Linked DNA regions of Homo sapiens. The protein of the gene in region 1 interacts with the protein of each later gene in a pairwise test. Each region holds a gene or a part of one and is shown in the gene's direction. Other genes may lie near its edges.

What was found.
Region 2: the proteins of ZNF655 (region 1) and CCDC74A interact in binary tests that used the Homo sapiens proteins (3 or more experiments, as listed by UniProt).
Region 3: the proteins of ZNF655 (region 1) and KIFC3 interact in binary tests that used the Homo sapiens proteins (3 or more experiments, as listed by UniProt).
Region 4: the proteins of ZNF655 (region 1) and AP1M1 interact in binary tests that used the Homo sapiens proteins (3 or more experiments, as listed by UniProt).

Annotation. Positions count from the first base shown.
Region 1 is NC_000007.14:99,561,641-99,568,675, forward strand, and holds part of ZNF655 (zinc finger protein 655), read left to right. Parts: intron 1-247; coding exon of another isoform or gene 248-333; exon of another isoform or gene 334-655; coding exon of another isoform or gene 656-854; intron 855-2,222; coding exon of another isoform or gene 2,223-2,419; exon of another isoform or gene 2,420-3,065; intron 3,066-7,035. UniProt on the Homo sapiens protein: Probable transcription factor.
Region 2 is NC_000002.12:131,530,880-131,534,193, forward strand, and holds the end of CCDC74A (coiled-coil domain-containing protein 74A), read left to right. Parts: intron 1-701; coding exon of another isoform or gene 702-727; exon of another isoform or gene 728-743; coding exon of another isoform or gene 744-784; coding exon 785-923; intron 924-1,709; coding exon 1,710-1,902; intron 1,903-1,984; coding exon 1,985-2,058; intron 2,059-2,133; coding exon 2,134-2,190; exon of another isoform or gene 2,191-2,195; intron 2,196-2,389; coding exon 2,390-2,519; 3' UTR 2,520-2,787; downstream 2,788-3,314.
Region 3 is NC_000016.10:57,771,489-57,778,523, reverse strand, and holds part of KIFC3 (kinesin-like protein KIFC3), read left to right. Parts: intron 1-1,269; exon of another isoform or gene 1,270-2,038; intron 2,039-3,445; exon of another isoform or gene 3,446-3,535; coding exon of another isoform or gene 3,536-3,544; intron 3,545-6,171; exon of another isoform or gene 6,172-6,235; coding exon 6,236-6,301; intron 6,302-6,837; coding exon 6,838-6,981; intron 6,982-7,035. UniProt on the Homo sapiens protein: Minus-end microtubule-dependent motor protein. Involved in apically targeted transport. Required for zonula adherens maintenance.
Region 4 is NC_000019.10:16,193,609-16,200,931, forward strand, and holds the start of AP1M1 (AP-1 complex subunit mu-1), read left to right. Parts: upstream 1-4,302; 5' UTR 4,303-4,418; coding exon 4,419-4,460; intron 4,461-7,323. UniProt on the Homo sapiens protein: Subunit of clathrin-associated adaptor protein complex 1 that plays a role in protein sorting in the trans-Golgi network (TGN) and endosomes.

The DNA of each region.
Region 1 (7,035 bases):
TGATGAAGATAAAGTGAAATACAAGCTTTCCTAAGAAAATCCTGTATCACAGGTCAAAACACGCATAAGGCATGCAAGTACTGAGACGAAGCAGAGTAGACACACCCAATACCTGAAAAATGTTCATTGGTTTTACTAGAGTATTGAGGAGGGTCCTGCTGACACCCCTTGGGCTGGAGAGGCCTCCTCTGAAAGGGAGCCCTGGGAAAGGGCTGCTCTCACTCTTCACTCCTTTCTCCTCCCTCAGCTCCACCTGTTCCTCAGGTGCCTGCTCTTCCCCGTGAGGGAAGCCCAGGAGACCAGGCAGCTGCGCTCTTGACAGCCAGGTACCAGGTGAGCTGAGGAACCCTCTGCTTTTCCTCAGGGACTATTGCTACTGATGGAGTGTGGCCTCTCTCTCATCCCATCTGTAGACCTTGCCTGGAATTTTTTTCAATAGCAGACTCCAGTTTGGGAATTGATCCTCTTCGGAGACCTGGACTTCACATAAACCAACTTCCCATCTCCCCAGTGCCATGAGCAAACTCTGTTTTCTCTTTGTCCATGGTTGTGTGATGGGTGCTTATTAGATGTTTAAGGGTTATGGGCTTTATTCCGTAGGTTCTAATCTGTTCTCCCTCCTCCTCAACGTAAGTACACAGTGGATACCCTCTCTATGATCTTCATTCTCTGGCCATGGTGCTACAGTGTTCTCATTCCTCAGAGCAGCCAGGATGTGTTATTTCAGGAGTTTGTGACATTCGAGGATGTGGCTGTGCACCTTACTCGAGAGGAATGGGGATACCTGGACCCTGTTCAGAGGGACCTCTACAGAGAAGTGATGTTAGAGAATTATGGGAACGTGGTCTCACTGGGTAAGGACTTCCTTATTATTCGGTTTATCTATTTGAATTTCTTTACTTTCTTGTTTCTTCCTAAGTATAAGGTCTCTGAGAAGGTCTGTAGAGTGTGGCTTAGATTCCAGGACTTAGAACCTCTGAATCCTTATCTTTCACATCGTCTTCTCCGGGAGGGGTAATTAACGTTTGTTTGGGGGTGCCAAGAAGAGACATTCTCCTCCTTATCCCCAGTTCATGTTTATGGCCATTGTGGGGCATCTTTTCCCTTTTAGCAAAGGGAAACTTTCTTGTGCTTTGCTTGATTTCTCACCGTTCTTTTCTTTTCCATTTTTGTAGGAGAGACCCCAGGGTGGCCTCCCAACCTCCAACCAGACACTTTCCTCTTTGTTATCTCAGTGTCCCTGTATTAGAGAATTGAAGAATTTCCCATTTTTCTAGGAAAAAGAAATGCCGTTTATTTAAAAAGACAGGCTAAATTCCTTCTTGTTGAGTAGTCCCTCACCCCTTAAGATCCCCAGATGTATCTCCAAGCAGGCAGAACTTGAGATGTCATTTGAAGGCATGACTCACTGTGAGTACATTTCAGTGAGTCACCCAGAATGGTAATCCCACGTAACCACACCCAGGGCAGCAGAAATCTCAGATGTTTACCCCATGCTGAGGTGGGGTCAATGCTTAACTCATGTCTCTCCCTTGTCATTTTGAAAGGTACAGTGGGAAGCTGGGATTAGCCAAGCTGTAGTGCTGCTGGGAAGCATCAGTGGGGTTTGTCGGCAGCTCCCTTGGTGTGAGCATTGTTCCTTTTTCTTTAGTTTATTTTTTATATTATATTATATTTTTTATTTTATTTTATTTTTAGATGGAGTTTCACTCTTGTTGCCCAGGCTGGAGTGCAGTGGTGCAATCTCAACTCACTACAACCTCTGCCTTCCAGGTTCAAGCGATTCTCCTGCCTCAGCCTCCCAAGTAGCTGGGATTACAGGCATGGGCCACCACGCCCGCCTAATTTTGTATTTTTAGTAGAGACGGGGTTTCACCATGCTGGTCAGGCTGATCTCGAACTCTTGACCTCAAGTGATCCACCTTCCTTGGCCTCCCAAAGTGCTGGAATTACAGGCATGAGCCACCGCACCCAGCCTCCTTTTTCTTTAGTTTCTTGCTTGCTTCTGCACTCTTCTTTTTGTGTGTGTAAATACTGAATCATGCATTTTCTTTTCTTTTTTTTTTTTCCGTTGGCTTTGTCTATGCTGGTGGCATCCAGGGCATTGCTTTGTCTCCCTGATTATGCTCAGGATTCAAGGTCTTCTTATTTGTGGGGAGGCAGGCTGCCCACTGGGACGGTTTTTAGTGTGTTTTCCATTCCTGGCTCTTTAATCTTTGTAGGCATACTTCTCCGCCTTCCCACCACCCGGATTCATAGTGTGAATTCCTGCCCGGCCCTGAGTCATACCCAGGCAAGTGCTTTCTCTGGAGAAACACTTGCCGTCCTTACAGCAGGAATCTCCAAGAGATGGCCCAAGTATCGGCTTCCCATCGATATTGCTCGTCCCTGCTCGGAAACTCCTTTTCCACGATTGTGAGATATTAAAATTGACTGATGGAATAGAAGCTCCCCAGGATGCCACCACTGTGTAAAATCGCAGCTCCTCAAATTACCTCTGTTTAATTTCAAATGTTAGGGTCCAAGGAAGCCCTCTGTTGCAACCAGATATGTTTTGAACCCAGTTCATTCAGAAACCATGGTTGGTGGTCATCATCTACTTGTATTGTGAAAAACCAGAAATTCCAAATTCAGCTCTTCAGTTATGGTCTTTTCATATTATTTTAGAATGTGAAACTTATGCTGTGTGCCCCTCCTTTTATGTGGCGAACACAACCTGCCCCGTATGGTGCCTAACTCTCCTGTGAACCCTGGGCTTCCCTCATGTTTAACATTCTGGTTTCCTCCTTCCTTGAAGTCCCTGTGGCCCTCTTCAAGGTCCTACCTTCCTACCCTTTATTCTTTGTGGTTCTGTACAGATTGATGCAATTATATTGCCTTTCCTGATTAAGTGTTCCTTACTCTGTCCTTGATGGAGGGGAGAAGGGAGGGCAAAGAAGTTAAATTTATTTCAGGGCATCAAATTGAATATCTACTTAATAACTTTGTAAACTGTAAAGTGACATACATATAATTGTAAAGTACTGTTAATTTTATCTAATAATTACAGAGTTTCCAACAGTTAACCTGTCTACTTTTTGGAGTAAAGAAACTTTGTAGCAGTTTAATGCAGTCTAATAGCATAGTATGCTATAGACTGAACTTTATCCCATTTCCTCTCTTATCTCTGCACTGCACACTCGACATGCAGTCGACATGCATACACACTTTTACACATACAAGAGACACGCACAGTGCAAGAAAGCCTTCTACTCATCTTGCTTTTGTGATCAAGTTAGCAGCATCTCCTTAGCAGTTATTTTTACAATCCTTGGGAAATCATTTTCATATTTTTGGGTTCAGCAGACTTCATCTGAAAATTAACCCATTTATGCCTAGTGTTCCATTATTGGAACACTAAGCTTGCGGGAATTATTTATGTCCCGCTGCTCAAGGTCATCGCCAAGGTCTGATTTTTAACAAAAATTGCAACCTCCAGCATAACTGGGTTAAGTTTATACATTTATTAATTTAACTTTTTAGGGTTGTAAGACTTTTTTTTTTTTTGAGACGGAGTCTTGCTCTGTTGCCCAGGCTGGAGTGCAGTGGCACCATCTCTGCTCACCGCAAGCTCCACCTCCCGGCTTCATGCCATTCTCCTGCCTCAGCCTCCCAAGTAGCTGGGACTACAGATGCTCGCCACCATGCCTGGCTAATCTTTTCGTATTTTTAGTAGAGATGGGGTTTTGCCATCTTAGCCAGGATGGTCTCGATCTCCTGACCTCGTGATCCGCCTGTCTCGGCCTCCCAAAGTGCTGGGATTACAGGTTGTGAGCCACTGCGCCTGGCCTCCAGATTGTATTTGTCACAGACATTAGAACGTTGGTCCTTTGCTTAAGTGCTTCCACTATGCAGCAGTAAATATACAGAGTACAAATAGCTGAGTAAAGAAGTCGGTAATAAGTAATTTTCGTTACCACATAATTGAAAAAAGAACATACTCCATTGATGATGAATGAACAATTTGCCTCTGGGTCACTATCCATAGGGAAGTTACCTGTTACTTAGTGTGGTAGATTAAGACCCATAAAGGGGACCGAGTTGCTTTTCACATGGGTAAGTGTGGCAGGTGCCCTATTAGATGATGGCCTCAGAAGCATGCTTGTTAAAATTCTAATTGATATTAACTGGGTCAGTAGATTGGGAATGTTTGGCACATACTCTCTGCTTTTTTAACTTGATGTCATGAAGGACTACAGTTATTTTGCACAGAATGTTTTCCATTGTCACAGCTATTTAGTATTTATTGAGCAGCCAATATGTTATTGGGTACTATATATATGTATGTATACACACACACACACATATGTATATACACACACACAGACATAGGACATTTATATGTGTGTGTGTGTGTGTGTGTATATATATATATAAAGGATATGTGTATATATCTCATTTAATCCTTACCATAACCCTGTGAGCAGATGACACTGCTCCTATTTTATATCTGAGGAAACTGAGGCTCAGAGAAGTTAAGTGATCTTTGCAGGATCAGTGAGAGGCTTGGGACCCAGATCTGCCTCTGAAGCCCCTGCACTTTTTCACTACTTTGTGCCCTTAGGACAATAAGTTCAACTACACATGGAGTTTTTAATATTTTTAGTGAGTTGTGTGTACTCTGATGACAAGAAAAATTCAAAATGCCATGACAAATTGGACAGACAGGCCAGTATATAGTTTGGGACCAGAAAGGACATGCATTCAAAAAGTAAAACTCTCTAGGGACACATTCCAGTCCAACAGGTATCTACAAAAGAATGATATTGCTAAGGAGAGATATTATTTGTGTATTAAGGACCAGGAAGAAAAGCGTGAAGCTTTCAGATGGCTAAAAGCATAGCCGTAGTAAAAGCAGCAAACCATATGATAAGGCAAATTTTAAATATTATTTTTGAGGCAGGGTCCCCTCTTGTTGCCCAGGCTAGAATACAGTGGCATGATAACAGCTCACTGCAGCCTGGACTTCCCTCCAGGCTCAGGTGATCCTCCTACCTCAGCCTTCTGGGTAGCTGGGACTATAGGCCTGTACCATCATGCTAATTTTTTTCTATTTTTAGTAAAGAAGGTGTTTCGCTATGTTACCCAGGCTGTTGAACTCCTGGGCTCAAGTGATCTGCATGCCTCAGCTCCCCAGAGTCCTGGGATTACACATGTGAGCCAACACCATGCTCAGCTTTAACTGTTATTTTTGAAGACCAGATTAAAATAAATTTTATTAGAAAACTCTCAAGATTTAAATAAAATAATTTTTTTTTTGGAGACAGTCTTGCTCTGTCGCTCAGGCTGGAGTGTGGTGGCACAATGTCAGCTCACTGCAACCTCCGCCTCTCAGGCCCAAGCCATTCTTGTGCCTCAGCCTCCAGAGTAGCTGGGACTACAGGCATGCACCACCATACCCAGCTAATTTTTGTATTTTTAGTAGAGATGGGGTTTTGCCATGTTGGCCAGGCTGGTCTTGAACTCTTGGCCTCATGTGTTCCACATCCAGCCTTAAAATCAAAAGGTTTTAATAACTTAATTTTAAACGGAAAAAATGTAAAGCAAGTGCATATTTTGAAAGCATAGAGTCGGCCAGGTGCTGTGGCTCACACATGTAATCCCAGCACTTTGGGAGGCCAAGGCAGGCGGATCACCTGAGGTTGGGAGTTCGAGACCAGCCTGACCAACATGGAGAAACCCCGTCTCTACTAAAAATACAAAATTAGCCGGGCATGGTGGCGCATGCCTGTAATCCCAGCTACTCTGGAGGCTGAGGCAGGAGAATCACTTGAACCCAGGAGGTGGAGTTGAGGTGAGCCGAGATCGTGCCATTGCACTCCAGCCTGGGTGACAGAGTGCAACTCCGTCTCAAAAAAAAAAAAAAAGCATTCACGTCAATGTCAAGAGAACCTGCTACTAATGCTTTCTTTGATAGGCAGTATGATAGGTTGGAAAGAATATAAACTGGGATCAAGCTTGGGTTCCACTTACCAGCTGTAGTATGTTGAGCAAATTATTTAATCTGACACTCATTTTCTTGGTTTATAAAACATGAAAAATAATGTCTACCTTCTGGGTACAGGATTGAATTAGATTATGCATATAAGTACCTGGCTTGTGTCGGGTGCGGTGGCTCACGCCTGTAATCCAGCACTTTGGGAGGGTGAGGTGGGCGGATCACAAGGTCAGGAGTTCGAGACCAGCCTGACCAACATGGTGAAACCCCGTCTCTACTAAAAATACAAAAATTAGCTGGGCATGGTGGTACATGCCTGTGATTGCAGCTACCCAGGAGGCTGAGGCTGGAGAATCGCTTGAACCCGGGAGGTGGAGGTTGCAGTGAGCCAAGATCATGCCATTGCACTCCAGCCTGGGCGACAGAGCGAGACTCCATACCCCCCGGCCAAAAAAAAAAAAAAAAAATTAAGTACCTGCCTTGTGCTAGTTACTTTAATATTTTGGAAAGAATAGCAAGCGATATGAGCCATAGACCAGATTTTTTAATACAAATAAAAATTTCAGGAGTGTGTTCAAATTATTTATTTATAGTGGAGTTTCCTCAAATTTATTATTGTTTGGACTATTGTCTAGGGATTTGGATTTTTTTTTTTTTTTTTGAAATGGAGTCTCCCAGGCTGGAGTGTAGTGGCGTGATCTCGGCTCACTGCAACCTCTGCCTCCCGGGTTCAAGCGATTCTCCTTCCTCAGTCTCTCGAGTGGCTGGGACTACAGGCACCCGCCATCACGCCCGGCTAATTTTTGGTATTTTTAGTAGAGACAGGGTTTCACCGTGTTAGCCAGGATGGTCTCGATCTCCTGACCTTGTGATCTGCCTGCCTTGGCCTCCCAAAGTGCTAGGATTACAGGCGCGAGCCACCGTGCCTGGCTGGGGTTTGGATTTTTATTGTAAAGGATTTCCATTTCCTTGATAATAAATCATCTTTTAGATCCCTTTTAATTTTTAATTTTAATTTTTTGTAGAGATGGAGTCTCACTATGTTCCCCAAGCAGGTC
Region 2 (3,314 bases), on another chromosome or scaffold:
CCAGCCTGGGTGGCCTCTAGGGGTGCTGACCAGGCGCCCTCTGCTGGGCCAAGCTCCAGGATTTGGGGATGAAGGTGCAGCTGAAAAGAGCCCTGCAAGCTGAAGCCACCGGGAGGGGATTAAGGGGGGGTGGGCAGGACCAGGGACCAGTCACAGGGCAGTAAGGCCTCACAGCAGGCACCCCAGGGCGGGGCAGCAAGCAGGCAGGAGGGGCCTCCCCGGGTGGCCTTCTAGGGAGGATGTACCCTGGCTGCCCAGCAGCAGCCCTGCTTGGCCGTGTCCCTGCCACAAGCAGGCAGGACACAGGAGGGATGGCACTGCCCACGGAGCCCTGGGCTCATGGCACCTTCTGCAGAGTGAGCCGGGAGCAGAGAGCCTCTTTTCCCCACTCTGTGAGGCCGGGCATTTTCCTCAGCCCTGCCCTAACCCCCACCATTCCTGTGATGGGCCCAGGTGCTAGACGGGCCTTGTCCTTGCCGAGGAAACCCATGCAGGCTGGGTCCCAAGCCTCTCATGCAGTTTCATTTTACCCAAGATGGGGCCAGCTTCCACTATGTTGATTGTTCTAGAGTGTTCACAGGCACCACCCATGGGCTTCACCCTCAGAACCACATTGATTCCCCCCAGAACCCTCCAAGGCAGGCTTCCCTTTACAGAGGAGGAAACTGAGGCAGGGACAGGGGCTTCTTGGGTACACACAGCTGTTCCTGGAAAACTTGGGCGGTGACTGTTGGTGCCTGCAGTGACCGGCCTTGTAGGGTCTGACTTGCAGCCAACTCTCAAGGCAAGGCCAGGCCCCAGCCCGGCTCCTTCAACAAGCAAGATTCAAAAGCTGACGTCTCCCAGAAGGCGGACCTGGAAGAGGAGCCCCTACTTCACAACAGCAAGCTGGACAAAGTTCCTGGGGTACAAGGGCAGGCCAGGTAAGGCTTGGGTGTTCCTGGGGTGCAAGGGCAGGCCAGGTAAGTCTTGCCTGCACCCTAAGGGCCCCATGACTACATTTACTAGGCTCACGCCCTGCAGTCAGCCAACTGCTCTGCCCCTAGCTCCAGGGGCCTGTCTCCTGGGCTCATGATAGCAGATGACGGCCACGCTCTACCCATCGGTGGGCGCTGTCTTCCTCCCTTCCCCTGGGGGTCCTGCAGAGTACCTGTGCTGACCTGAGCCCACGAGGGGGGCCAGTAGCAGCCCCTAAACCACTTCCTCAGAGAAAAGTAAAGTAATATTCTTACCAAGAGAAGGCTTGCTGCCCCTGGCCACAGCCTGCCTTTGGAGGGCACTAGGCCAGCAGGTCAGAGTAGGAACAGGTTCTGGTGATCCCTGAGTTTGCGGGACTGCCCTGAGATGCTACAGAGTGCACACTTTCAGCAGCGCAACCAGCAGGACAGGCTCCTGCATCTGCACATCCCAAGACCAGGCCTGGAGCAAGATGCCCCACTGGGTGTGGGGTCACGATCAAGAGCAGCCTGGCAGCTAGCTGGTCACCCACTGAAGCCCATCTGACCCTTAGGGCACCTTCAGAGGGGAGAAAGGGACAGGCCCCAGTCCCAGAGACCCCCACCTGGTGCCCAGAGCACCCTGCTCAGTGGGAGAGGGGAACCAGGCCCTCTTCCCCACATTGGCCTGGGCGCTGCCTGGGGAGGTATGCTGGGTGGGTGGTTAGACGCACCTGGGCAGGTCACCTCTGGCTGCTGCAATGACTGTTTCAGAAAGGAGAAAGCAGAGGCCTCTAATGCAGGAGCTGCCTGTATGGGGAACAGCCAGCACCAGGGCAGGCAGATGGGGGCGGGGGCACACCCCCCAATGATCCTGCCCCTTCCCCTGCGAAAGCCCACCACACTTAGGCAGTGCGAAGTGCTCATCCGCGAGCTGTGGAATACCAACCTCCTGCAGACCCAAGAGGTGAGGCCCTGGGTGGTGGGGGTGGCCCTGGGCAGTCTGGCACCGCCACAGGCCCCACCATGCCCCTGCCCCTGCCTTTCAGCTGCGGCACCTCAAGTCCCTCCTGGAAGGGAGCCAGAGGCCCCAGGCAGCCCCGGAGGAAGCTAGCTTTCCCAGGTGAGTGCCTGGTGCACCCCTGCCCCATCCCTGGGGTCCTATCCACAGCTCACTGCTGACTCTTCCTTCACCCAGGGACCAAGAAGCCACGCATTTCCCCAAGGTCTCCACCAAGAGCCTCTCCAAGAAATGGTAAGTCCCACAGGCATGGGGACAGTGGGGCAGCCCTGCAGCCTGGGCCCCAGGGAGGGAGTGGGGAAGGGAGGGTGGCAGCGCAGAAGCAGAGCTCGCTGAGGCCTCTCTGTGCCCCCGTGAGGGCCATGCAGGCCGCACTCCCCACACACTCCACTCCCGGGGATGCTCACGGTGACAGTCCCTCTACCCGCCCCAGCCTGAGCCCACCTGTGGCGGAGCGTGCCATCCTGCCCGCACTGAAGCAGACCCCGAAGAACAACTTTGCCGAGAGGCAGAAGAGGCTGCAGGCAATGCAGAAACGGCGCCTGCATCGCTCAGTGCTTTGAGCCACCCCAATCTGGTCAGTGCCAGGCCCACCAACCTGCAGCTGGAGACTGGCTCTCTATAGCATTTCCTGATACTTCCGCTACTTTTAGGCCTGGCTAAATTCCAAGACAGATAACACTCAAGATAGATAAAGTACTTGATCTCCAAACTGACAAACTGTTTATTTTCTAGCTGTTATTTTGCTATTTGGCATTTACATAAAAGCACACGATGAAGCAGGTATCGCCTTACCTGTTGAAACTGAAAATAAAGCTTGTTTATTTCCAAGTTGTGTGCCTGGCTCCTCACTGGCTATCAGGCGTCGCGTCCCTTCCCAGTCCCAGCCCTTGGCCTCTAGCCCAGGCCCTGCTGTCTGCAGGGACCTGCCTGGGCAGCCCAGTCTTGCGCATCCTGGGACCTGCCAGCGGCCCTGGGAGATAGGCATTGGCAGAGCCATGCACATCCTCCCTGGAAGCGGGAGGGCTTTTCTGGTCCCCTGGCTGGGCTGGAGCTGCGTTCCAAACACATGATCACTCTGTCTCTTGCCCACACTGCACACTCCTGGGGGCAAGAGGCTGTCCTCTCCTGCCCTGACACAGCACCGCAGACAGGGGGTCCAGCCAGGCTCGCCCTCCTCCTCGGAGGGCTGTCTCGAGTGCTGTGGCCATGCCCACACCACCCCTTCCGCCATAGCACAGCCATGTCCATGTCGGGGGTGGGGTGGCCAGCTTACTGCCCACCCTCAGCCAGCCACACAGTCTTCCCAGGCCCACGGCCCCACTTCGTTGGCATTAATCTCAGCCTCTTCCTGCTTC
Region 3 (7,035 bases), on another chromosome or scaffold:
TGCGAGTATTTTCCACGTGTTGCCTTTTCACTCTGTTGATAGTGTCCTTTGTTATACAAAAGTTTTTAATTTTGATAAAGTCTGACTTACCTATTTTTTCTTTTATTGCCTGTGCTTTTGGTGTTATATCCAAGAAGTCATTGCCAAATTTAATGTCATGACATTTTCTCCTCTATTTTCTTCTGAGAGTTTTATAGTTTTAGCTCTCACATTTAGGTCTTTGGGGTTTTTTGTTTTTTGTTTTGACACAAGATCTTGCTGTATTGCCCAGGCTGCAGTGTGGTGGTATAGTCATGGCTCACTGTGGCCTTGGCCTCCTGGGCTCAAGTGATCTGCCCGCCTCAGCCTCCCTAGTAGCTGGGACCACAGGCGTGTGCCACTGTGCCCAGCTAATTTTGGTTACTTGTTGTAGAGACAGGGTTTCCCTATGTTGCCCAGGCTGGTCTTGAACTCCTGGGCTCGAGCACTCCTCCTACCTTGGCCTCCCAAAGTGCTGGGATTACACCACGCCTGGCCCTCTTTGATCTATTTTGAGTTAATTTTTGTATATGGTATAAGGTAAGGATCCAACTCCATTCTTTTGCCTGTGGATATCCAGTTTTCTCAGCACCATTTGTTGAAAAGATTATCCTTTCCCACATTAAATGATCTTGGCAACCTTGTCAAAAATCATTTAACCATATATGCGAGGGTTTATTTCTGGACTCTGTATTCCATTCCATTGCTCTTTATGTCTGTTTTAATGTCAGTACCACACTGCTTTGATTGCTGTAGCTTTTTTTTTTTTAATTTTTTTTTTATTTGAGATGGAGTCTTGCTCTGCTGCCCAGGCGGGAGTGCAGTGGTGCAATCTCAGCTCACTGCGACCTCTGCCTCTCGGGTTCAAGCGATTCTCCTGCCTCAGCCTCCTGAGTAGCTGGGATTACAGGCGCCTGCCATGAGGCCCGGCTAATTTTTGTATTTTTAGTAGAGATGGGGTTTCGTCACGTTGGCCAGGGTGGCCTCAAACTTCTGACCTCAGGTGATCCGCCTGCCTCGGCCTCCCAAAGTGCTGGGATTACAGGCATGAGCCACCGCGCCTGGCCAATTGCTGTAGCTTTTTAGTGAGTTTTGAAATCAGGAAGTGTGAGACCTTCAGTCTTTCAAGACTGTTTTAGCTATGTGGTGTCCCTTGATATGGATTTTTCTATTTCTTTAGAAAATGTCATTGGGATTTTGTTAGGCATTGCATTGAATCTGTAGATCACTTTGGGTAGTACTGACACCTTATCAATATTAAATCTTCTAATCCATGAACATGGAATGTCTTTCCATTTATTGGTGTCATCTTTAATTTCTTTCACCAATATCTTGTAGTTTTTAGCATACAATATTTAACCTTTGTTAAGTTTATTCCTCGGTACTTTATTCTTTTTGATGCTATTGTAAATGGAATTATTTTCTTAATTTCCTTTTTGGATTGTTTATTGTTAGTTGTAGAAATGTAACCGATTTTTGTGTGTTCATTTTGTATCCTTCAACTTTGCTGAATTTATTAGTTCTAATTGCCCTGCTTTTAAAATCAAATTAATTCCAACATTCAAATCTTAATTAAATTCACATAAAACTCTAGACTTCCTTTTTGTCATAAAATATTGGAAGATGTGGCACCTCTGAGCTGACATTCCCACATGGCACCCACCGCTTGAGGTCTAGTGGCAGCTCCTGCCTTTGGTGGAGGTGACCATCCTTTAGCACGCTCCAGCCCCACCACCCTTTCTGTCTCTGCTTACCAACCTCATCCACAAGTTCTGCTCTGGCTGGCCCCTCATGCATTCAGCATTCTTCCTACAGGTACTTACTGAACACCTACTGTGTACCAGGCACTGTTCCAGGCACTGGGAGTACAGTGCTGAACACAACAGACAAAAATCCCTGCCTTCGCATATATCATCTCGTTTAATCCTCGAGACAGCTTCCATGAGGTAGCCTCATTATACAAATAAGGAAACTAAGAGACATAGAGAACTTAAGAGACTTGTCCAAGGTTACCCAGCAGGTAAGGGGATGTCTGGATTAGAACCTGGGCAGCCTGGCTTTAGAATTCGAATTGTCAGCTGCTATTACTGCCCATCAGTGGCGGAAGGACCCAGAGGTGAAGACTTGGCAACAGAGGCAGGGTGGCGTGGACAGGGGACAGATAGGCCTGGCCGGTGGTCATACAGCCAGGATCAGGCCTTCTGTGGGCTCCACAGGGTGTGCTCCCAGGGCCGCCCCGCTGGCCTCTGGGCTGAGTTTCCTTGAGGTTGTCTGGATCCCAGACCCTCTGGCCTTCCCAGCTCAGCAGCTTCAGCCTGGGAGAGCCCGCTTTTCCTCAGCAGACAGCTGATGATCGTTGACTGGGCTTGGTGGGAGGTAAGGAGGTAACCAGCAGGTTTTCTTTCTGTGATGGTAAGAGGCCGCCTTGGAAGCAGACAGCTGAGAAAACACAAAGACCTGGGCTGGCTGGCCCCACCCTTGGTCGAGCCGCTTCTGCCTGTGAAGTGTAAATGCAGGTGGTGTCAAGCCGGCAGACAGGCCCAGCTCCCTCTTCCCCTTGAGCAGGCAGGGTGACGCCCCCTGCAGCAGGCCCGTGATTCAGTTGCTCTGGCTGATGAGGAGCCTGGGCCCGGGAGGAGTGTCGCACAGCCCCAGCCTGGTCCGTCCTCAGCCCTGGATTGACGTCCATGCTGTCCTGGGACCGTTTCAGCCGCCTAGTGGGGAGTCTGCTTTCTCCTCCGTCCTGTGTCTTGGGCTCAGGCATGTGCCTGCTGCCCCTTTGTGGCCACAAGTATGTATCGGGCCCAGGGTGGCACTCGGGACCCTCCCCTGTTGGGCTTAGAGACATGGACGGCCCTTGCTGGCTGGAAGCTGCGGTGAGTGTGTGAAGGGCCCTCAGTCTTCCCTGAGGAAGGCCCTGCCTGCTCTTGGCTCTCACTGCTCCCAGGCCATCTTCCATCCGCTTTCCCCAGGTGCCTCCGTTTCTCTCTGACTTCTTGCCTGTTTTCCCTAACTCTGAGAGATTGCCTGCCTTCAAGTGCAGGAGAAAGCAGACATCTTCCCTACAAGCCCGAGACCTAGCCCCCAGTAGAGCTGGCCAACCACCTGCCACGGAGCAGGCCACTGGTGCCTTGGCCAGAGTGCTCGTGGTGCCAGTCTGCTGCGTCTCAGTCACATTCCCCCTGCTTTGCTGCCCTCAAGAAGCCAGAGATGACCTAGTGTCTGACACCTCTGAACAAAGGGGCCTTTAGAGCCCCTTCCTCAACTCCCTCACCATCCCCCATGCTCCCCAGCCTGCCCTGGTTGCGGTTGCGGCCACTTCCTTTTGGGTGCCCCTCTGAGATTCTGGACAGAGCCCAGGAGCCCCCAGGTTCCCATTGTGATGCAAGGACAGAACAGAACCCTGGGCCGCAGGCAGGTGGCTGGTGGGTATCCCGCCTCCCACCCCCAGCAAACACTGGCAAACCCCACTCTCCCTGCATCAGGGTCTGAGTGCCTGGCAGGGGCGGCAGTGGAGATGATCAAGGTTAGTGCGCCCAGCCCCATGCTGAGGCAGCAGCCTTTCTGGGGAGGGAGGGGGCGTGGAAGGAGACTTCAACCTTTTGAAGAGGAAGTCAGTTCACTTATGTCAGGGTAGGGAGAGTAGGAATTACGTATTCTTTGAGACTGAAAAATTACTGGCCGGGCGCAGGGGCTCACAACGGTAATCCCAGCACTTTGGGAGGCTGAGGCGGGAAGACTGCTTGAGGCCAGGAATTCAAGGCCAGCTTGGGCAAAATGGCAAGACCCTTCTATACATTAAAAAAAAAAAAAAAATTAGCCGGGCGTGATGGTATGTGCTTGTAGTCCCAGCTACTCGGGAGGCTGAGATGGGAGGATGGCTTGAGTCCAGGAGGTCTAGGCTGCAGTGAGCCTAGATCGAGGCACTGCACTCCAGCCTGGGTGACAGAGTGAGACCCTGTCTCAAAAAGAAAAAAAAAAATTACTGAAAAGCATAAAGATTTTGTCAACTATAATTCCACAGCCCAGAGACCCCCACTTTTTAGTGCTGTACACTTAATGGTTTTTCAGATGTTTCTTGGACTTAATATGTTGATGAGCCTTTCCCCATGACATTTAAAACTCCTGATAAACATGAATGTAATGATGACAGAATAGTCTATGTACTATATATACACATTGTAATTCACCTGCCCACTCCTCTAAGGGTGCTTATTCAGGGTATTCTCAATTTTAGGACGAAAGCAGAAAGGCTGCCTCATGCAAACTGTCCCTACTCCCACCCAGGGGCCAAAGGACTTGAGCCGTCCTCTCATCAGGCACTGAGCGGGCAGAGAAGTGGCACAAGCTCTGCCTCCCTGCCTGGCCCGTGGCCCAGCGTGTTGCTAGGAAGGAATGTGTTTGTGCAGGTGGCGGCAGAGCTGACCTCCAGGGGTCTGGCCCTTGGGTCACCTGCTTGTCCCCCAGGAGGCCTGGCTGGGCCCCCAGCCTTTCACCTGGGTCTTGCATCTTGGAATCCCCCTGCCCCACCAAGAGCAGGCAGTGCCAGCTCCCTGGCCTTTTCCTCAGAGGTGGGGGTGGATCCCTTGGTCCACTTCCTCCCTGACCACTCAGAGCTGGCCTAGCTGCTGTGAGTCAGCCGTTCTCTCCCACCCTGGGAGACAGGGACCTCCGAGGCCGAACACTACCTTGTTTGATGACACAGACTTGTTTGATGACATCTCAACCATGTAAAGTAGGGAGATTTTACACACACCCCCAAAATCCAAATGTCCGGCCTGTCTTAACTATGGCTGATGCATGCTGCTGAGTGCTAAGGGGGCGGACTCTAAGCCTCTATTTTTATTTTATTTTTTTTAGACAGCCTCGCTCTGTCACCCTGGGGTACAGTGATGCTATCATAGCTTACTGCAGCTTCAAACTCCTGGGCTCAGGTGATCTCCCACCTAACCCCCCGGATTACAGCTGGGATTATAAGCGTGCACTGGTGCACTCGGCTGAGTTTTGAAACTTTTTGTAGAGATGGGGTCTTGCTGTGTTGCTCAGGCTGGCCTAGGCCTCTCTTGAAAGATGAGAATTTTGGCGATGCTGGGTGTGCGTTCTCACCTCCTGTCGTCCGAGGAGAGTACGTGGTGGCCGCCTTCTTAAAGGGTTCTTGGGAGCCAAGCCCTGCACAGCCCCTCACCTGCCTTACCTGGCTGTCCCCTGTAATCAGTGGACGTTGTTGCCTATCATTTAGTAATGAGAACCCAGCTGTGTAAACCTCCTAAACCACCACACAGGAATCTGGCTCTTAGCGCACCTTTCCCGAGGTGGGGGTTGCTCACCACAGGACGTTCTGCAAGAAAAGTACTAAACATGCCCTGACGGAAGCTGGAGCCAAAGTCTGTGTCTGTGAATTGTTTCCTGAGAGAGGTTTCTGGGGGTGGGCTGATGTGAGACCAGGGTCTAGGGCCTTGGGAGGGGATGGGTGGCTGGAGGACAGCGCCGGGGAAGGGTTGCTCCCCTGGGATCTGCCCTCATGGGACTGGCACCATGATGGTGTCCCCTCTTCTGGGGTCCGGATAAGCTAGGTAACCGTGGCTTCCTCATGGGGTGCACACCCCCTTCCCCCTATAAGAGCCTTGGCTGCCACAGCTTTCCTGCAAGGCAGATTGGGAGCAGGGGTGGACACAGGTTCTGAGTGTGCCCTGACCACTGGCAGACCCATCTCCACAGGCTGACTTGCCAGAGACCACCCCAAGTGGAAAATTCTGGGGGCTGGGCCAGGGTGGATCTAGGGCTCGGAGGACCTGGAGTATGTACCATCTGGGGGCCCTTTTAAAGAGAGAGAACATAAAATTACATAGACACAGGCAGGTACAGGACTTTGGGAGGGGCTCGTGTAGTGAGGGGTCCTGAGGGTGGGCTGCCGTTGGGTGGGCCCAGGGGGCATCGGGGTGGCCTTGGTTGCACTTGCCCTCTGGGCTTTCCTGAAGAGCTGGGGTTGGCTCTGTCCTGTGGAGGGAGAGGGTGCGGGAGGCTGTCAGCACCAGCCCAGGTTTCTCTCACCTGAAGTCCCAGGTGTGATGGGATGCTTGAACATAGGGGAACCTAAGGCCACAGCCTTAGAAGAAGCCACAGCCACATCAGTCATCCCTGGTGCTGGGCAGGAGGCCTGGGTGTAGGCTGGAGCTGAGGACTGAGGCTCACCTTGCTCCTGACTCTGTGCCCACAGGTAGAACACCTGAAGGAGAAGCTCATTAGCCAGGCCCAGGAAGTGAGCCGACTGCGATCTGAGCTGGTGAGGCCACAAGGCTGTCCTGGGGTAGCGCAGGGCCTGGCCTGCCTTGTGCAGATGGGCCCTGCCAGGGGCAGGGGTGCGACCCTCTCTCTCCTGAGCCCGCATATCCCACCCTGTCTCAGAAACACACCGAGAGCCTTATCCCCACCTCCTAGTACCCTCAGAGGCCTTGTGGCTCCAGGGGGTGGGAGGTTCCTTCTCTGTTGCTGACATTAAACGGGAGTGTGAACCCTGGTATAAATATGTCTCTCCTTGTGACTTTCACACTCAGAATAGGGTGGGGGCAGCAGGGAGAGCAGGCTCTGGGTCACCACCCTTCTCAACTCTGCCCTCCACTGTCTTTCTCTTGGTTTCTCTCTTGAGCTTGTTCCCTCCTCTCTTGCCCTTGCCTTTTTCTTTTTCTTTTTCTCCTTCCCTCTGCCTTTCTCCACACCTCTCCTCTCTTCCCTGCCCTTGTGCCATCTCCGCGGGCCTCTCTTCTTTCCCCCGTCATCTGCCCTCGCCACATGCGCCCCCTCGGCCCTGGCTCTCTGCAGGGGGGCACCGACTTGGAGAAGCACCGGGACCTGCTGATGGTGGAGAATGAGCGACTGAGGCAGGAGATGCGGCGCTGTGAGGCCGAGCTGCAAGAGCTGCGCACAAAGCCAGCAGGTCCCTGCCCAGGTTGTGAGCACAGCCAGGTGAGCAGAATGGCCGTGGTCCCCATGCTGGTCCTGGAGGGCCACCCCAGCTCC
Region 4 (7,323 bases), on another chromosome or scaffold:
AATACCCTTACAGTCCACCACCGCTGTCCTCAAATTTACATTAGAATCACCTGGGGAGCATTAAAAACCGCCAAGTTCTGGTGCCAGGCACAGTGCGACGTATGCAAATGTAATCCCAGCTGCTCAGGAGGCTGAGGCTGGAGGGTTGCCTGAGCCCAGGAGTTCAAAGCGAGCCTGGAGAACAGAGATTCTTATTGTGTGTAGGGAGTGTTGTGGCAGGCCAGGTCTCACTAATGCAGGCCTCCGGCCTTCATAATGACTGTTTAAGTACTGACTAAGTGGTTAATTTTTTTTTTTTTTTTGGAGATGGCATTTCGCTCATTGCCCAGGCTGGAGTGCATTGGTGCGATCTCGGCTCACTGCAACTCTGCCTCCCGGGTTCAAGCAATTCTCCTGCCTCTCAGCCTCTGGAGTAGCTGGGATTCCAGGCATGCACCACCGTGCCCGGCTAATTTTTGTATTTCTAGTAGAGACAGGGTTTCGGTATGTTGGCCAGGCTGGTCTCAAACTCTCCTGACCTCAGGTGATCCACCTGCCTCGGCCTCCCAAAGTGCTGCGATTACAGGCGTGAACCACCATGCCCAGCCAAGAGAGGCTTTTGATACTAATTGCCCAGTGATTAAGCTCTAGAAGGAATCCGATGAGATGTCAGGACTATTATTATTACCATTATTATTATTTTGAGATGGGGTCTCATTCTCTTGCCCAGGCTGGAGTGCAGTGGTGTGATCACGGCTCACTGCAGCTTTGACCTCCCAGGCTGAAGTGATCCTCCCACCTCGACCTCCTGAGTAGCTGGGATCACAAGTGTACATCACCATACCCAGCTGATTTATTTATCTCTTTGTAGAGATAGGGTCTCCCTATGTTGCCCAGGTCTCAAACTACTGGCCTCAACCTCAAGTGATCCTCCTGCCTCGGCCTCCCAAAGTGTTGGGATTGTGGGTGTCAGCCACCAAGCCCGGCCACAGCTGTGACTTCCCACTGCTCAGGAAGAACATCAGGGTCTGTTCACCAAGAGTTAACAGAAATAGACGCGATATGTAACAAACCCTGTTGGACCTAGTCTCATATTTTGCCCCATTTATTGTAATGTTTTAGAGATCTTACTCTGTTGCCCAGGCTGGAGTACAGTGATGCCACTATAGCTCACTGCAGCCTTGTCAACCTCCCAGGTTCAAGTGATTCTTCTGTTTCAGCCTCCCAAGTAGCTGGGACTACAAGTGTGTGCCACCACACTCAGCTAATTTTTGTATTTTTTGTAGAGATGGGGTTTCATCATGTTCCCCAGGCTAGTCTGAAACTCCTGGGCTCAAGTGATCCTCCTGTCTCTGTCTCCCAAAGTGCTGGGATTACAGGCATGAGCCATAGAACCAAGCAACTTTTTTTTTTTTTTTATTTGAGACTCAGTCTCAAAAAGATAAAATAAAAAAAGAAAGAAAGATCATACCTATTATGATACACCAGGGTTTCTCAAATTTTGTTTCCTATTAGCATCATCTGGGGAGCTTGGAAAAAAATCCCAATAACCAGGCTGGGCGCAGTGGCTCATGCCTTTAATCCCAGCACTTTGGGAGGCCAAGGCGAGCAGATCACTTGAGCCGAGGTGTTTGAGACCAGCCTGGGCAACATGGGGAAACCCCATCTGTACAAAAATCGCAAAATTAAGCCTGGCCAACATAGTGAAACCCCATCTTTACTAAAAATACAAAAACTGATCTGGGCCTGGTGGCACACATCTGTAGTCCCAGCTACTCAGGAGGCTAAGGTTGGAGGATCGCTTGAACCCAGGAGGCAGAAGTTGCAATGAGCTGCTGAGATTGCACCACTGCACTCCGGCCTGGGTGACAGAGCGAGACCCTGTTTCAAAAAAAAAAACAAAAAACCAGAATTAGCTGGCCTTGATGGTGTGCATCTGTAGTCCCAGCTGAGCCAAGGAGGTGAAGGTTGCAGTGAGCCGAGATTGCACCAGTGCACTCCAGCCTGGTGACAGGATAAGACCGTGCCTCAAAAAAAAAAAAAAAGAAAGGAAAAGAAGGCCAGGCGCGGTGACTCACACCTGTAATCCCAGCACTTTGGGAGGTGGGGCGGGCGGATCACAAGGTCAAGAGATCAAGACCATCCTAGCCAACATGGTGAAACCCCGTCTCTACTAAAAATACAAAAATTAGCTGGGCATGGTGGCAGGCACCTATAGTTCCAGCTACTTGGGAGGCTGAGGCAGGAGAATCACTTGAACCTGGAAGGCAGAGGTTGCAGTGAGCCGAGATCGTGTCACTGCATGCCAGCCTGGTGACAGAGTGAGACTCTGTCTCAAAAAAAAAATTAAAAAAAAGAAAAATCCCAATAACCAAACCCTGGCCCAGACCAATTAAAACAAAATCTCTATACATGGCTTTCAGGCCTCAGTGGTTCTTATTGTGTGTGTTGTATTGGGGGGGCTTTTGAGACCCCCACTCCTAACCTATTCCCAGACCAAACTGAGGGTTGGGCTTCTATATCTCACAGCCCAATAATGAGACACAGATGAACTAGGGAGGAAGAGAGTTTTTATTTCTGTAACTGGTTACAGGGAGAAGGCCTGGAAAATATCACCAGACCAACCCAAAATTACAAAGTCTTCCAGAGCTCATATACCTTCTAAGCTATATGTCTACGTGTAGGTGTGCATTCATCTAAAGACGTAAGTAAGTTATAGTCTTTTAACCCATAACTAAGATCTGAGTCCTGAAGACCTTCCTCTGGAGCCTCAGTAAATTTACTTAATCTAAGTGGGTCCAGGTGCTGGGGTGATTACCCTTATCTTATCTCCTGCTAAATCATGGAGGTTTGGGGGAGTTCCTTCAAACCCCAATAAACTTGTTTGTGGAGGCCTGAGGAGTTTCTTCAGACCGCCAATAAAGCTTGTTTAATCCTAAAAGGGTCCTGTTAAGAATTCCTTCATTATCTTGTCATGCTTCAAGGCCCAGGAAAGGCCTAGGCACAACTCTGGGTGGGCTTTTGTTACATCCCAGCCTTTGTATAAGGGCACTGGCTCTCTTATCTTTTAATATTTAACTTAACCCTTGTAATCCCAGCACTTTGGGAGGCCGAGGTGGGTGGATCACGTGAGGTCAGGAGTTTGAGACAAGCCTGGCCAACATGGTGAAACCACGTCTCTACTAAAAATACAAAAATTAGCTAGGTGTGGTGGCACATGCCTGTAATCCCAGCCACTTGAGAGGCTGACACACAAGAGAATCACTTGAACCCAGGAGGCAGAGGTTGCAGTGAGCCGAGATCATGCCATTGCACTCCAGCCTGGGTGACAGAGTGAGACTCCATCTCAAAAAAAAAAAAAAAAAAAAAAGCAAACAACAAAAACCCTCTCTTGGCTGCTTGCTCTGTGCCTTGAGCAAGAATCCTTCCAGCCCAGGAGTCACTTAGCAGTCTTCAAACATTCTAGTTTGCTTCTCTAGAGTTTCGGTCACATTTCTTTCCTAAGCAAAACACTATATAATTACCGAGTTGCAAAAATCATCTTTCCAAACGCCAAAACGGAGATAAGACAGAAAATAAAAGATGTGAGAGGCAGGCATCCTGGGTAAATCACTCTGGTATTGCAGGGTTGGGATCCCCAGGGTACTATGATGGCTAACTGGAACAGAATGCAGGCATTTCTCCAAAGCCCAAGAGTTCATAAAAGCAAATTAAATATGACTCAATGGATTAATCAAGGGCCACCAGTTGCATTACTGATTACTAACTTTGCAGAAATGAAACACGGTATGTTGGGTCAAGGTTCAGTGAGGCTGGTTTTCATAACATTCCAGGCAATAAACAGGCACACTCATTCATTGATAAATGTTGACAATGACAGGTGGTGACTGTTGATAAGGTTTGATTGCCATTCAGAAAGTTTGTTTGACCTCTTTCCAAGTAACCACGACCTTACCTCTCTCTTTTGAGCTTATCACAATTGGTGACTGTACACTTGTTTCATAGACTTCCCCACCAGACTGTGAGCTCCATAGGGCTGGGCCCCAGGTCGGTTTCACCACCAGGCTCTCTCGCCTAACTCGGCCCACGGGAGGCCGTTTCCAGCTGCTCTGGCTCCATAGCTCAGCCTGGCAGCGGCCACTGGGTGCCCTGATTTGGTCGGCCCCGCCCCACCGGGCCTTACTTCCGGGATGCTTCTGGCGGGAGCAAGAAACATGGTTACATACGACGTAATGCGCCTGCGCACAGTCCGTCCTGCGCCTGCGCATTCCTGACAGCACCTCCCGGACCGGACATAACGGTCCCCGCGCGGCTCCCCGAACCGGAAGTGGAGGTGAGCTGTCGCGGGCGGCGCCCGGCCTTGCTCAACGCCCAGCAGTCCCCACCGTCGCTGCCGCCGCCACCGCCCTCGGCCGCTGCCGAGGCCTCCTGCAGCCATCATGTCCGCCAGCGCCGTCTACGTGCTGGACCTGAAGGGCAAGGTACTGAGGGCTCCCCACCCTCCCTGTTGCCAGGCAACCGGCAGGGGCCTCCGCCCGCGGGGACCCACCCTGTTGCTAGGTAACCGGCTTATGAGCCCCATCCTGGTGTGAGGCAGAGAGGCCGGTAGACCTCACCTGAGAGCCCCATCCTGTTTCTGGGTAACCGGGCGGGGGTCTTAAGTGGGTAATCCCCGCCCTGTTGCTACGTAACGCGGTGGGCTGCAGCCACCGCGTTGCCAGGTAACTGACTGCACCGCCCTCTGCTCCCCGGCGCCGGGGCCGGGGGCTCGGGCCTCGGTGGAGGACCCAGAAGCGGGGCCGCAGCCGGCCTCGGAGCCAGGCAGGGCGTCCAGGGGCTGCGCGACCCTTGGCCGGGGGTGGCGAGGCGTGGCGGGGACTGGGTGCTCTCGAGCCAGTCCCGCCTTCTCAGGGCGTTACAGCTTCTGTTTATCGTGCACTTTCTCTCAGTAGGAATTTCTCCACGTTCATTGTGATAGTGAGTTACAAGGATTAGGTGAGGTGAGTGGTGATCACGAGTGCCGTTTTATAGAGGGAGAAACTGAGGCATGGAGAGGTGAAGCAACCTGACCAAGGTCACAATGGTCACAGAGAAGTAGCAAGTCTAGGAGTCCGATCCAGAATCATTCGTTTATTCAGCTGATATCTGGGGAGCACCTACTAATGCCGGGCAGGGTACTAAGCCTGGGGTCGATTTGTGTTTAGCAAAAAACAGTCCCTTTTTTTTTGTTTTGTTTTTGAGATAGTGTCATGCTCAGTCGTCCAGTCTGGAGTGTAGTGGTGCAATCTCCACTCACTGCAACCTCCGCCTCCCGGGTTCAAGCAATTTTCCTGCCTCAGCCTCCCAAGTAGCTGGGATTACAGGCACCTGCCACTACGCCGAGCTAAATTTTGTATTTTTAGTAGAGGCAGGGTTTCACCATGTTGACCAGGCTGGTCTCGAACTCTTGACCTCGAGTGATCCACCTGTCTTAGCCTCCCAAAGTGCTGGGATTACAGGTGTGAGTCATGTGCCAGGGCTCAACAATCTGTGTTCTTACGGTGTTCACAGGCTGGTAGGGGAGATGGATACCCATCTCCAAAAACACAAATAAATGTCAATTGCAGTGGTGTTGAGGGGCGAGTGTGTTATACAGACAGTCAGCCTCAGCCCGAGGATGAGAGAGGGTTTCCCTGAGGAGGGGTGACAAATGGACCAGAGACACCAGGGAGCTGGACATAAACTAGAACCCAGGCATCTTCCCCAGAGGATCTGAGAAAACTTTAAGAAGGGATTGTCCCCACCTTTTAGAAATGGTCCTCTGCCTTCTCCTAAGTCCATCCCAGGTGCAAGGCAGGTGGCTGCCTGGCCTGTTGCATGTGGAAGCAACAAGAACCGGTCCAACAATGTGAAGCCCAACATTGATCAGTGAGAGAAACAAACATGGGTGTCAGGTCCTAGGTGAGGCGGGCAGGGGTGAGCCCTAAAGCAGCTGAGAGTGAAGAGGTGAAATGGCTGCCCCTTCCCGCCCCACCCCACCCCCAGCACTTTCCTGAAGTCCCTTGAGTGGGTGCCTGCTCTGGAAGCCACCCAAAGTCAACAACTGGTGAGACCCAGTGCTGGGCTTCCCTCCCCCGCCTTCTTGGAAGGAGGGAAGACACCCGTCTTAGAGCACGCCAGGGGCTGGGTGGTGCGGTGGAATGAGTCCTGGTGGAATGAGTCTTGCTTCCACCCTGGCCACTGCCTCCCCAGAGGTGCCAGTGGGCTGCCTGTCTTGGCTTGCTTATTCCTTCAGCAAACATTTCATGAGCACCTAGCATGCACCCTGCCCTATGCCGGGCATAGGGTGTCCATTGGCGCCATGGCTGTGGTGTTAGGGGTGAGCTCAAAACCCATCCCTGCTGCTCAGCTGTGTGACCTGGGACAGGCACCTTCTCCTGTCTGAGCCTCACTTTCCTCACTGGTCAAAAGAGGCTTTTATGGAGTTATTGTGCAGATTTGCTGAGCAGATGCATGAGACAGGCTCAGCACCACCCATGGTCCATGTTAGCTCTCCCAGGCCTCTCGGTCTAGCAGGGGAGTCACCTAGAAGCAGAGACATTACCACACAGTTGGATCCAGGCAGCCACAGGGGCAGGAACAAGGTCCCAAGTCCTGCAGTTGCTCAACCTCATCTTTAGCCAGTGGAAGGGGGAGGTGGTTATGAAAGGCTCCCTGAAGAGGGCGACGCTGGAAGTAGGTTTGGAAGGCACGATCATGTGGAAAAGAGGTGTTGCAAGGGGCAGCCTGCTGGGGCTGCCAAGCCAGAAGTCCTGGCTAATGCTGAGATGGGAGAGAGGGACCAAGGGGACCACTTCAGTTCCAACCAGGAGCCACCGTGAGGAGACCGTAGCCCAGAGAGGCATGATCAGACCTGCCTTTCAGAAAGCTCCCCAAGGCAGCCGTGGGCTTCCTTCCCTTCCTCTGCAACCATGATGCCCTTTCTTATTCCACGACCCACGGACCTCCTGTTTCCAAAGTCAGCCTCGTGAGCCGACTGCATTTAATCAACAATAAAGCACACTGAGAAATTCATGGCCACGTGTCTGGTCACCGAGGACACCAGCGTGGCCACACTGGGCTGGGAGGAAGCTGTCCTAGTAGGAAGCTTCTCCGCTTTATCTAACTGGCTTCTCAGCAGCTTCTGACACCACTAACCACCTCCTCTTCAGTGCTCCCTTCCGCTTCCAGGAGGCTGCGCTCTGGGGGGTTTCCTCCTGTTTCTTGCACTGCCTACTTTCCTCCTTTTCTGCCCTCCCCAGGGCTGTGGAGCGGCTCAGGCCTACGCGTGCCTCCCCATGCTGTCACTCTTCCCAGGTGGGCTTT